Homo sapiens: one gene and its partner. The protein of the gene in region 2 purifies or fractionates together with the protein of the main gene of each other region. This does not show direct contact. Each region holds a gene or a part of one and is shown on either strand. Other genes may lie near its edges.

Region 1 (4,822 bases), on a different chromosome or scaffold from region 2:
CAGCCTGGCCAACATAGTGAAACACTGTCTCTACTAAAAATACAAAAATTAGCTGGGCATGGTGGTGGGCACCTGTATTCCCAGCTACTCAGAAGGCTGAGGCAAGAGAATCCCTTGAACCCGGGAGGTGGAGATCATGCCACTGCACTGCAGCCTAGGCGACAGAGCGAGTCTCCATCTCCAAAAAAAAAACAAAAACAAAACAAACAAAAAACACAACAAAAAAACTTTTACAATTTGTAGCTTTCTTCCTCATCAAACCCTGTTTTAAGGCACAGACCATGCCCCAAACCCTAGTGTGCTATTCTTTTCCCAAAGGTGCAATCTAAACTGTCAAACACTGTCAGCATAAAAACTAAGACCATTCACTGGCCTAAAAGTCAAACAGTGAAACATGCTCTTTAGCAAAATATTTAGTTTTCTTTTTTTTTTTTTTTTTTTTGAGAGGGAGTCTCACTCTTGTCATCCAGGCTGGAGTGCAGTGGCGTGATCTCAGCTCACTACAATCTTTGCCTCCCGGGTTCAAGAAATTCTCCTGCCTCAGCCTCCCAAGTAGCTGGGATTACAGACACCTGCCACTACACCCGGCTAATTTTTGTATTTTTAGTAGAGACAGGGTTTCTACTAAACCATGTTGGCCAGGCTGGTCTCGAACTCCTGACCTCAGGTGATCCACCCGCCTCAGCCTCCCAAAGTGTTGGGGTTATAGGTGTGAGCCACTTTACCCAGACAAAATATTTACGTTTGAAATGAAGAGCTTGATGCTTCTCACCAGCTGGACAACCACCATATGAAGATGGAAGTTACATGTTGACAAAAAGATTGTGTTTTTATGTTTTACCAGGCCAGTCTTGGAGCTCAACCCAGCCTTGGGCACGAGGGCGAATGTATCATTTGAATGATCTGCAGCCACATGGAGCCTCTTCAGAACAGTTCTGAAGTCTCTCCGCGCAGACAATCTGGAGGTGTATTAGGTTAGGAGTCCTCTTGACAAGAGGAGGCTAGAAAGGAGCACCAAGCATTAACAAGAGTGCTATGCAAAAAGACGCAACAAAAGGCTTCCGCTTACTCACTTCGGTCTCTAAGAACCAATGTTCTCTTTTCACGCTTTCCGGGTTCATGTGAGTTAGTTTTCACAATGGATGCAGTGACCTCGGAAGGAGGGTGAGGACTGTGGAAAGCTGGGGAGGGCACACTGTGGGCCATGGTGCCCACAGCACCTCCAGCTGCAGCAGAGGGCCTCGTGTGGTCATATCTAAACAAAACACACAGCAGATGCATTACAGACATGCCACCCACACACATCTCCCACACTCCCCAGATGCCAATGGCCCTCCTTCTGCTGCACTTGTTGAGGTGAAGAAGGCGGCCATCTTTTCCAATATTTAAACTCTAACAGGATTATCGATTATTAACAGATGCTTGGCAATTCATTGTGAGGGGGACATTTGCTATCTATCACCTATGCTTAAGTGTCTCTGTGGGACTTGAGTGGGACAGACACACAGCACCAGACCACACAGAGAACCTGAAAGTTCCAAACAGATGTTGAGCTAAAATCTCCTGATGCCTGACTGACCCAGTATTCTTTTGAGCAGGAGTCCCCAAAATGCTGACAAGGGCCAATGATCTCTCCCTGACTGTCTCTCTTGGCACTCATTGACAGGGGAAGACCAACGTGGGCCTACTTCCATCATCTCCCACTGCACTGCAGAGAAAAAGGAGGGAAGGAAGCTTTGCAGTCTAGAAAGAAAAGATCGGCTCTTTGCTACAAAAGCATGAACAAGTTTCCGGAATTGTGTACAATTTTATAACTATATATTCATAAGAATAAGGCTGAAAAGTAGTTTTAAAAAATGAAAATTAGGCCAGGCACGGTGGCTCACGCCTGTAATTCCAGCACTTTGGGAAGCTGAGGCGGGAGGATCACGAGGTCAGGAGTTAGAGACCAGCCTGACCAACATGGTGAAACCCCATCTCTACTAAAAATACAAAAAAAAAAAAAATCAGCCAGGCGTAGTGGCAGATGCCTGTAATCTCAGCTACTTGGGAGGCTGAGGCAGGAGAACCCTGGAGGCGGAGGTTGCAGAGAACTGAGATCGCACCACTGCCCTCCAGCCTGGGCAACAGTGAGAGACTCTATCTCAAAAAAAAAAAGAAAAGAAAATTAGTTTTAGGGTACTGAAACTGAGGTTTTAAACTTATTTGCCATACTTTTTGTGATGTTGCCATATTACTTTTACATTAAAATTTCCCCCTTATCAAGACCCATTCTCCAAATGAAATCAGTGTCACAGCTGGAATCTGTTGCAGAGTCCTTGCCTGCACCGAGTTCCATAGGCACAGTAGCCCTTCTGGTAGTACTTGCAGATGGTGGACGGTTTGCTGTTTGCCAAGTCATGTGAGAATAGGCACTGACTTCCTTCCCGACACACACCATGCATAAAATACCTGCAGAGACAAGCACAGGCATACAACTTTTAGAAGCACATTTTGCTTTATAAAATCAGCTTATTCTTGAACTTAGCATACAAACATTTACCAGGCATATATTATGTATAAAGGCTCTATTAGGCACTGGAGAGAGATCTATATATTTCCTTGATTCTACAACAGTGATTTCAGAGGCACTACAACTGATTCAATGACAGCTTTTCTGAAAGAAAAACAAATGATCCCATATATTTCTATGTGAAGATATATCTTCCTGATTTGAGATATGTTCAATGTGAGCCACATAATTGAGAAAACACTCTGTGAAAAACTGTTCTCTCTGTTCTCAAGGAGCTTAAAGGGCATGACTAACGAAACCAGAAGATCTGGGCTCAAGACCCAGCTCTGCCACTTAAGAACATGTCACAAAACCAACTTCCCTGGGCCTTGCTACCTTTCCCTATAAAATGAAGATTATACTACCCACTTAACTGGTCGTGGTGAGGATCAAATACCATAGTGTGGTATCAAAAGATATACACAGATGCTCCTTGACTAATGATGGAGTTACATCCCAATAAAGCCACTGTTTTTTGTTTTTTGTTTTGAGATGGAGTCTCTCTGTCACCCAGGCTGAAGTGCAATGGCACAGTCTCAGCTCACTGCAACCTCTGCCTTCCGGGTTCAAGCGATTCTCCTAGCTCAGCCTGGGCTACCTTACTTATGCTTAGAACACTTACATCAGCCTACAGTTGGGCCAAATCATCTAACACAAAATCTATTTTACAATAAAGTGTAGAATAATCTCATGCAATTTATTGAACACCGTACTGAAAGTGAGAAACAGAAAGGTTGTATGGGTACTTGTAGTTTTTAATGAAAGCTGTTTCTCATACATTGTTTCAGATGTTTCAGAATATCAGATGTATCACATGTTCTGTATCAGAATATTCCACTGAGATATCAGATCCTGGCCTTGAAGAATAAGTGGTACAGGAATACCTGGGAGGCTAACTCTGTCCAGACAGGGTAGAGAGACCTGAGTGAATACTCAAACAGTAGAGACCCTAGATGAACATGTCTTGATATTAAAGATAAACTAGGCTGGGTGTGGTGGCTCACACCTGTAATCCTAGTACTTTGGGAGGCCAAGGCGGGCGCATCACCTGAGGTCGGGGGTTCCAGACCAGTCTGACCAACATGGAGAAACCCCGTCTCTACTAAAAAAAATACAAAATTAGTCAGGAGTGGAGGTGCATGCCTGTAATCCCAGCTACTTGGGAGGCTGAGGCAGGAGAATCGCTTGAACTCAGGAGGTGGAGGTTGCGGTGAGCCGAGATTGCGCCATTGCACTCCAGCCTGGGTGACAAGAGCAAAAACTCTGTCTCAAAAAAAAAAAAAAAAAAAAAAAGATAAACTAGCCAGGGCAACAAAGGGAGACCCTAAAATTTAAAAATTAGCCTAGCATGGTGGTATGCACCTGTGGTTCAGCTACTCAGGAGAGTGAGACAGGAGGATTGCTTAAACCCAGGAGTTCAAGGCTGCAGTAGCCATGATTGTGCCACTGCACTCTAGCCTGGGTGACAGCAAGATCCTGTCTCACAAAAGAAAAAAAAAAAGTAAACTAGTGTTAGAGTAGAAGTATTTTAGACACACCCTAATAAGGCTTAAAAAAAAAAAACACAAGCTGATAGCAAGTATATAACTTACTGTCAGCCAAAACAAACTTTAAAGGAAGACAATACAATCCAAATGCTCAGAAACTCACAATGCTTGGCATCCAATCATAAATTACTAGATATGCCAAAAAGCAGAAAATAATGTGACCTATAACCAGGAGAAAAATAAAGAACAGGAATTACAGAGATGATGGAATCAGCAAAATAAGACCTTAAGAACAGCTATTATACATATGCTCAATATGCTGAAAGATTTAAAGAAAAACATAAACATAATGTGGAGAGAAATGGATGATTTAAATAAGACCAAATACTAGGTGTGGTGGCTCACGCCTATAATCCCAGCGCTTTGGGAGACTGAGGTGGGTGGATGACCAGAGGTCAGGAGTTCGAAACCAGCCTGGTCAACATGGTGAAACACCATCTCTATTAAAAATACAAAAATTAGCCAGGTGTGGTGGCAGGTGCCTGTAATCCCAGCTACTTGGGAGGCTGAGGCAGGAGAATCACCTGAACCCTGGAGGCGGAGGTTGCAGTGAGCCAAGATCGCGCCATTGCACTCCAGCCTGGGCAATAAGAGCGAAACTCCACCTCAAAACAAAACAAAACAAAAAACAAATGAAACTTCTAGAAGTGAAAAATACAATGTCTGAAATGAGAATTACATTAGATGAGTTTAGTAGATGGGATACTACAAAGGAAAATATCAG
Region 2 (4,822 bases):
TATTAAAATTTAAACTGCACATACTATTTGACCCAGAAATTCCACTTATAAAAAAGTATCCTAAGAAAATAACCAGATGAATATGCTTAAACAATCTAATTGTCCATCAACCAACTGGCCATTCATAATGTAGCTATACAATGAAATAATATGCAGCTTTAAAAATCATGTCACTCTATATAAATGACATGAAAAGATGACCATTCAATGTAATTAAATGGTAAAAAGCAATATATGAGACTATTTCTATTATGATCCCATTTGGTTTTAAGAGACAAGTATGTTTATAGAAGCAGCAAAATGATCTAGAAAACTATACACAAGAGCATTAGTAATGGTTGTGATCTCTGTTTTCCTTTTCATCGTTTTTTTCTGTTTTTCCAATGAAAATCAACCATTACCTTTAAAGTCAGAAAAAAGGCTAAAGAGAAACTGAATCCTGCCACACTATCATACATGTCAAAAGCTTTAAAAAGATGCATTGGCTCAGTAATTCTACTTCTCGGAATTTGCCAAGGAAACAACATAGGTACAAAGATAAACAAGAATGCTCATTACATCATAAGGACCAAAAAAACTGAAAACCTAAATGTTCGATAACTAGAGTTTGGTTAAGTAAATTAGGGCACAAGTATTTATTGGAATACCATCATTCCAATATACACTATTAAATGTAAATATATTTTGCTAGATAAAAAAACAAACTACAACAATTTACTATGTATCATAACCAAGAAATAACATACCTGAGCATAGAAAATTTACTGAAAGTACATATGGTTTTCCAAATGTAAACATTTTTAGTAGCTACTTGGTAGTCATGACTTCAATCAAATACCATCTATGTGCTAATAATTCCTTATTTTCATCTTTCATCTATAATTCTCCCCAGAATTCTAGACTCATATATCTAACTGCCTATTCAATATTTCCAGCCAGATGCCTTAATAGGTATATCAGACTTAATATATCCAAAATGAGTTCTTAACCATCCCCATTCTCTGCAGGAAAAAGCTTGTTCTCCCAAAGACCCCTGTTTCAGTTCATGGACTCCGTTCTTTCCACTGGGGTTTGAGTCATCTTTGATTCTTGGAGTCATCTTTGATTCTTCTCTTTCTCGTATAATGCATACCAAACCCATAAGCAAATCATGATGATTCTACCCCTCTATCATCACTTTCTTTCCCCTTCCATGCTCTGTCCTTCTTCTGAGCACTTAACTACCCACTGAAATATAATAAATTTGTTTAATGTCTGCCTCCTCCCAGAACATAAACTCGTGAGAGCAATGACTTTGTGCCTGTGCTTTATCCTCTTAATGAAGAGCAATATACATAACAAGCACTCAATAAATATTTATTGAATCAATGAATATACTTTTCCACTATCCATTTCCTCTCAAAGCTTACAAAACAAATCCATACTGCCCAAAAAGGAAAGCTACTAGTAAGAAGAGGATTAATTCTGAGGTGGTTCATTTACTAGTTACTAAGGTACCTTTTCTAATCACTACAGGTAAAAACAAAAATAATTATGCAAGCTATAATCCCATTTTTACTAATAAAAAATTATACTAATAAAACAATACATGTTTATGAACAGGACAGCAAAGCAAAATACCAAACAACGACGACAACAACAGTGGTAAATTTAACTACATAAAAATTCAAATCTTCAGCCAGCCGCGGTGGCTCATGCCTGTACTCCTAACACTTTGGGAGGCTGAAGCGAGTGGATCACTTGAGCTCACGTCAAGCTCAGGAGTTTGAGACCAGCCTGAGCAACATAGTGAAACCCCATCTCCACCAAAAATACAAAAATATTAGCCAGGCATGGTGGCATGTGCCTATAGTCCCAGCTACATGGGGGGCTGAAGTGGGAGGATCACTTGAGCCCAGGAGGTGAGGGTGTAATGAGCTGAGATTGTGCCACTGCACTCCAGCCTGAGAAACAAAGTGAGACCCTGTCTCAAAAAAAAAAAAAAAAAAAAAAAATCAAATGGAAAGCAATATGAACAAAATTCAAGACAAAAAATAACAGAAAAAAAGCACTTATTTGTAATACATATGGAAAAAGGGAAGTCAGATAAAAGAATTTTTAAATGGGTCATCTTACCTTGTGCATCTTGGCACTGGCCATGTGATAGGCCAGAAAGTTGTACCAATACATACAGTCTTCCTGATCTGGTGAAAGAGTATGCGGCTGGTGATATCTCTGAAACTGAGTGATTATCTTCTTATGTAGATCCTGCAACCCAATGAAACGTTTCAGAAGCCAGAAACAATTTTATAACCTAAGCATCACAGTAACTTCAGCTTCCAAAGCTATTAAGAATGTACAGAGAGGCCGGGCTCGGTGGCTCACGCCTGTAATCCCAGCACTTTGGGAGGCCAAGGTAGGAGGATCACTTGAGGCCAGGACTTCGAGACTAGCCTGGGCAACATAGAGAGATATCCGTATATTTAATTTTTTTACAAAAAATAAAAAATAAAAAAAATCAGTCAGGTGTGGTGGCATATGCCTGCAGACCCAACTACTCGGGAATTAGCTACTCAGGACCAACCGAGCCCAGGAGTTTAAGATTGCAGTGAGCCACTGCATGCCAGCCTGGGCAACACAGTAAGACCCTGTCTCAAAAAAAAAAAAATACATATATATATACAGAGAATCTCCCCACAAAATAATGACTTTACAGTGCAGAAACCTGGCAGATACCACTTTAAACAAATTATCAACATTAACATCACCCATAATAAAACATATCAACACCAGGAGTCTGGGAATAGTGGCTCATACCTACAATCTCAGCACTTTGGGAGGCCAAGACAGGTGGATCACTTGAGCCCAGGAGTTCAAGAACAGCCTGGGCAACATGGCAAAACACTATCTCTACAAAAAATTTTTTAAAAACCACCAAGTACTCTCAGCCTATGACGCCACTGAGAAAGATACAACATCATTGGTATTCTTGCCAAATATCTATAACTTCAATCTAGTCAGGAAAAACATCACACAAAACCAAATTTGGGTATACTGTACAAAATTACTAGCCAGTACTCTTCAAAGGTGACAAGGCCATGAAAGATAAAGACTGATAAATTTTCACAGATTTGAGGAGACGGAAAAAAATGACAAGTAGGGAAACAAGACAATCATATGCAATACGGGATCCTAAATTGGCCTGGACTACAAAAAGAACACGTAGGTTAGTGAACAGTATTGTATCAATGTTAATTTTCTGGCTTTAACAACTGTACTATGGTTATATAAAATGTTAATATTAGGGGAAGCTAGGTGAAGGACTTATGCACAGAAACTATCTACTATTTTGTAAATTTTCAATAAATCTAAAATTATTTCAAAGGAAAAAGGAAAAAAAAAAGTAAACCAAGATGCAAGTACCTGAAGCTGGCTGCAATTCTTCTCTGTAAGAAAATCTACTTGAAGATCATGTAAATAATAACGAAACGACTTTCCATTCCGATCACAGAATAAAAGAGACTTATTTACAAACTCCTGCAGTATGTCTTCAACTTCTTCAGTTTCCATGTCCCAGAGAATACATAACACCTAGGAATTGTTGTAAGTATTTAATATGCCACAAAAGTACAATGACCAGGACTGTAGACAGGTATTATCACACACACAAAAAAACGGTATCTTAAAGCCCTGAGTAAGAATGTCTCCATTTCTTAAGAAGAAACTCAGCTACTCCTCAAGATAGAAAAGAGAAAGAGAAGTCAGATGCTTCTTCAGCTGCACTAGAACCACAGAAATAGGTTAACTCCTGAGTTCAACACAAAGCCCTTAATGGAAGCTAACAGCAGAGGGATTTCTACACCCAACACCCCACCACCTCAGTCCCCTGGGTCTTATCCTTCCAAGGTTCTCTGTAACAACATGCTCAGTACTATATCAAAGCTTACATGCAATAAATACCCAATGATGAGGATCATTGATCCCATTACCTTTGTAGGCACCTTAACGTCCTTCTGAAGGATGGAAAGATCTGTGTAATAATCTTTGATGTCTTCTCTGAGCATTTCAACACTTATAGACATGGCTTCATCTAGAGCCTCATAATCATAAGACGAAGATTTCCTTATTCTCTTAAACTGCTTATTCTGAAGCTGTTTGAGGTAGTACTCCCAGCGATTGGGAAAATCACGTAAAAGTGCACCAATTAAAGATACTACAAGGGGAGAGCCTTTAAAAAAAAAATGAAGTCACTATGCTAATACCATCCTATTTTGTCACTAATAAGAATCGACTTACTTACTTACATTACTAAGAAACAATTTCTGCTGCATGTTATCAAAAGCCTTAAGTATTTATCACTCTTGACTTCACTTCTAGATATTTATCCCAAAAAAAATTAGAAATAAGAAAGATTTCATTCAGTAAGTTCCTGATTATCTTTATTAAGTCAAAATAACATAGATCAAATCTGGCTAAGATGTCATTACAAAAAAAAAAAAAAATATATATATATATATATATATATGCGCCAGTCTAAGCAATATAATGAGACCTTGTCTCTACTAAAAATAAAAATTAGAAAAATCAGCCAGGTGTGGTGGTGTGTGCCTATAGTGCCGGCTACTTAGGAGGCTGAGGTGGGAGGATTGCTTCAGCCCAGGAGGTTGAGGCTACGGTGAGCCATGACAGCACCACTGCATCCTAGCCTGAGGAACAGTGTGAGACTCTGTCTTAAAGAAAAAGAAAAGAATGATTAAGTTTAAGGATATTCATCACAGCACACTTAGAATAGTGAAAAAATCTTAAACAACGTAAACAATGTCCAATAATACAGAAGTGGTTG

What was found. Proteins that work in one complex are often made in the same cells at the same time.
Region 1: the proteins of APAF1 (region 2) and MKRN2 fractionate together in Homo sapiens (co-fractionation; one large-scale study listed by BioGRID). This does not show direct contact.

What each region holds. Positions count from the first base shown.
Region 1 is NC_000003.12:12,566,504-12,571,325, reverse strand, and holds part of MKRN2 (E3 ubiquitin-protein ligase makorin-2), read right to left. Parts: intron 2,452-4,822; coding exon 2,323-2,451; intron 1,256-2,322; coding exon 1,074-1,255; intron 1-1,073. UniProt on the Homo sapiens protein: E3 ubiquitin ligase catalyzing the covalent attachment of ubiquitin moieties onto substrate proteins.
Region 2 is NC_000012.12:98,664,938-98,669,759, reverse strand, and holds part of APAF1 (apoptotic protease-activating factor 1), read right to left. Parts: intron 4,710-4,822; coding exon of another isoform or gene 4,681-4,709; exon of another isoform or gene 4,402-4,680; intron 4,208-4,401; coding exon 3,969-4,207; intron 3,571-3,968; coding exon 3,403-3,570; intron 2,248-3,402; coding exon 2,116-2,247; intron 1-2,115. UniProt on the Homo sapiens protein: Oligomeric Apaf-1 mediates the cytochrome c-dependent autocatalytic activation of pro-caspase-9 (Apaf-3), leading to the activation of caspase-3 and apoptosis. This activation requires ATP. Isoform 6 is less effective in inducing apoptosis.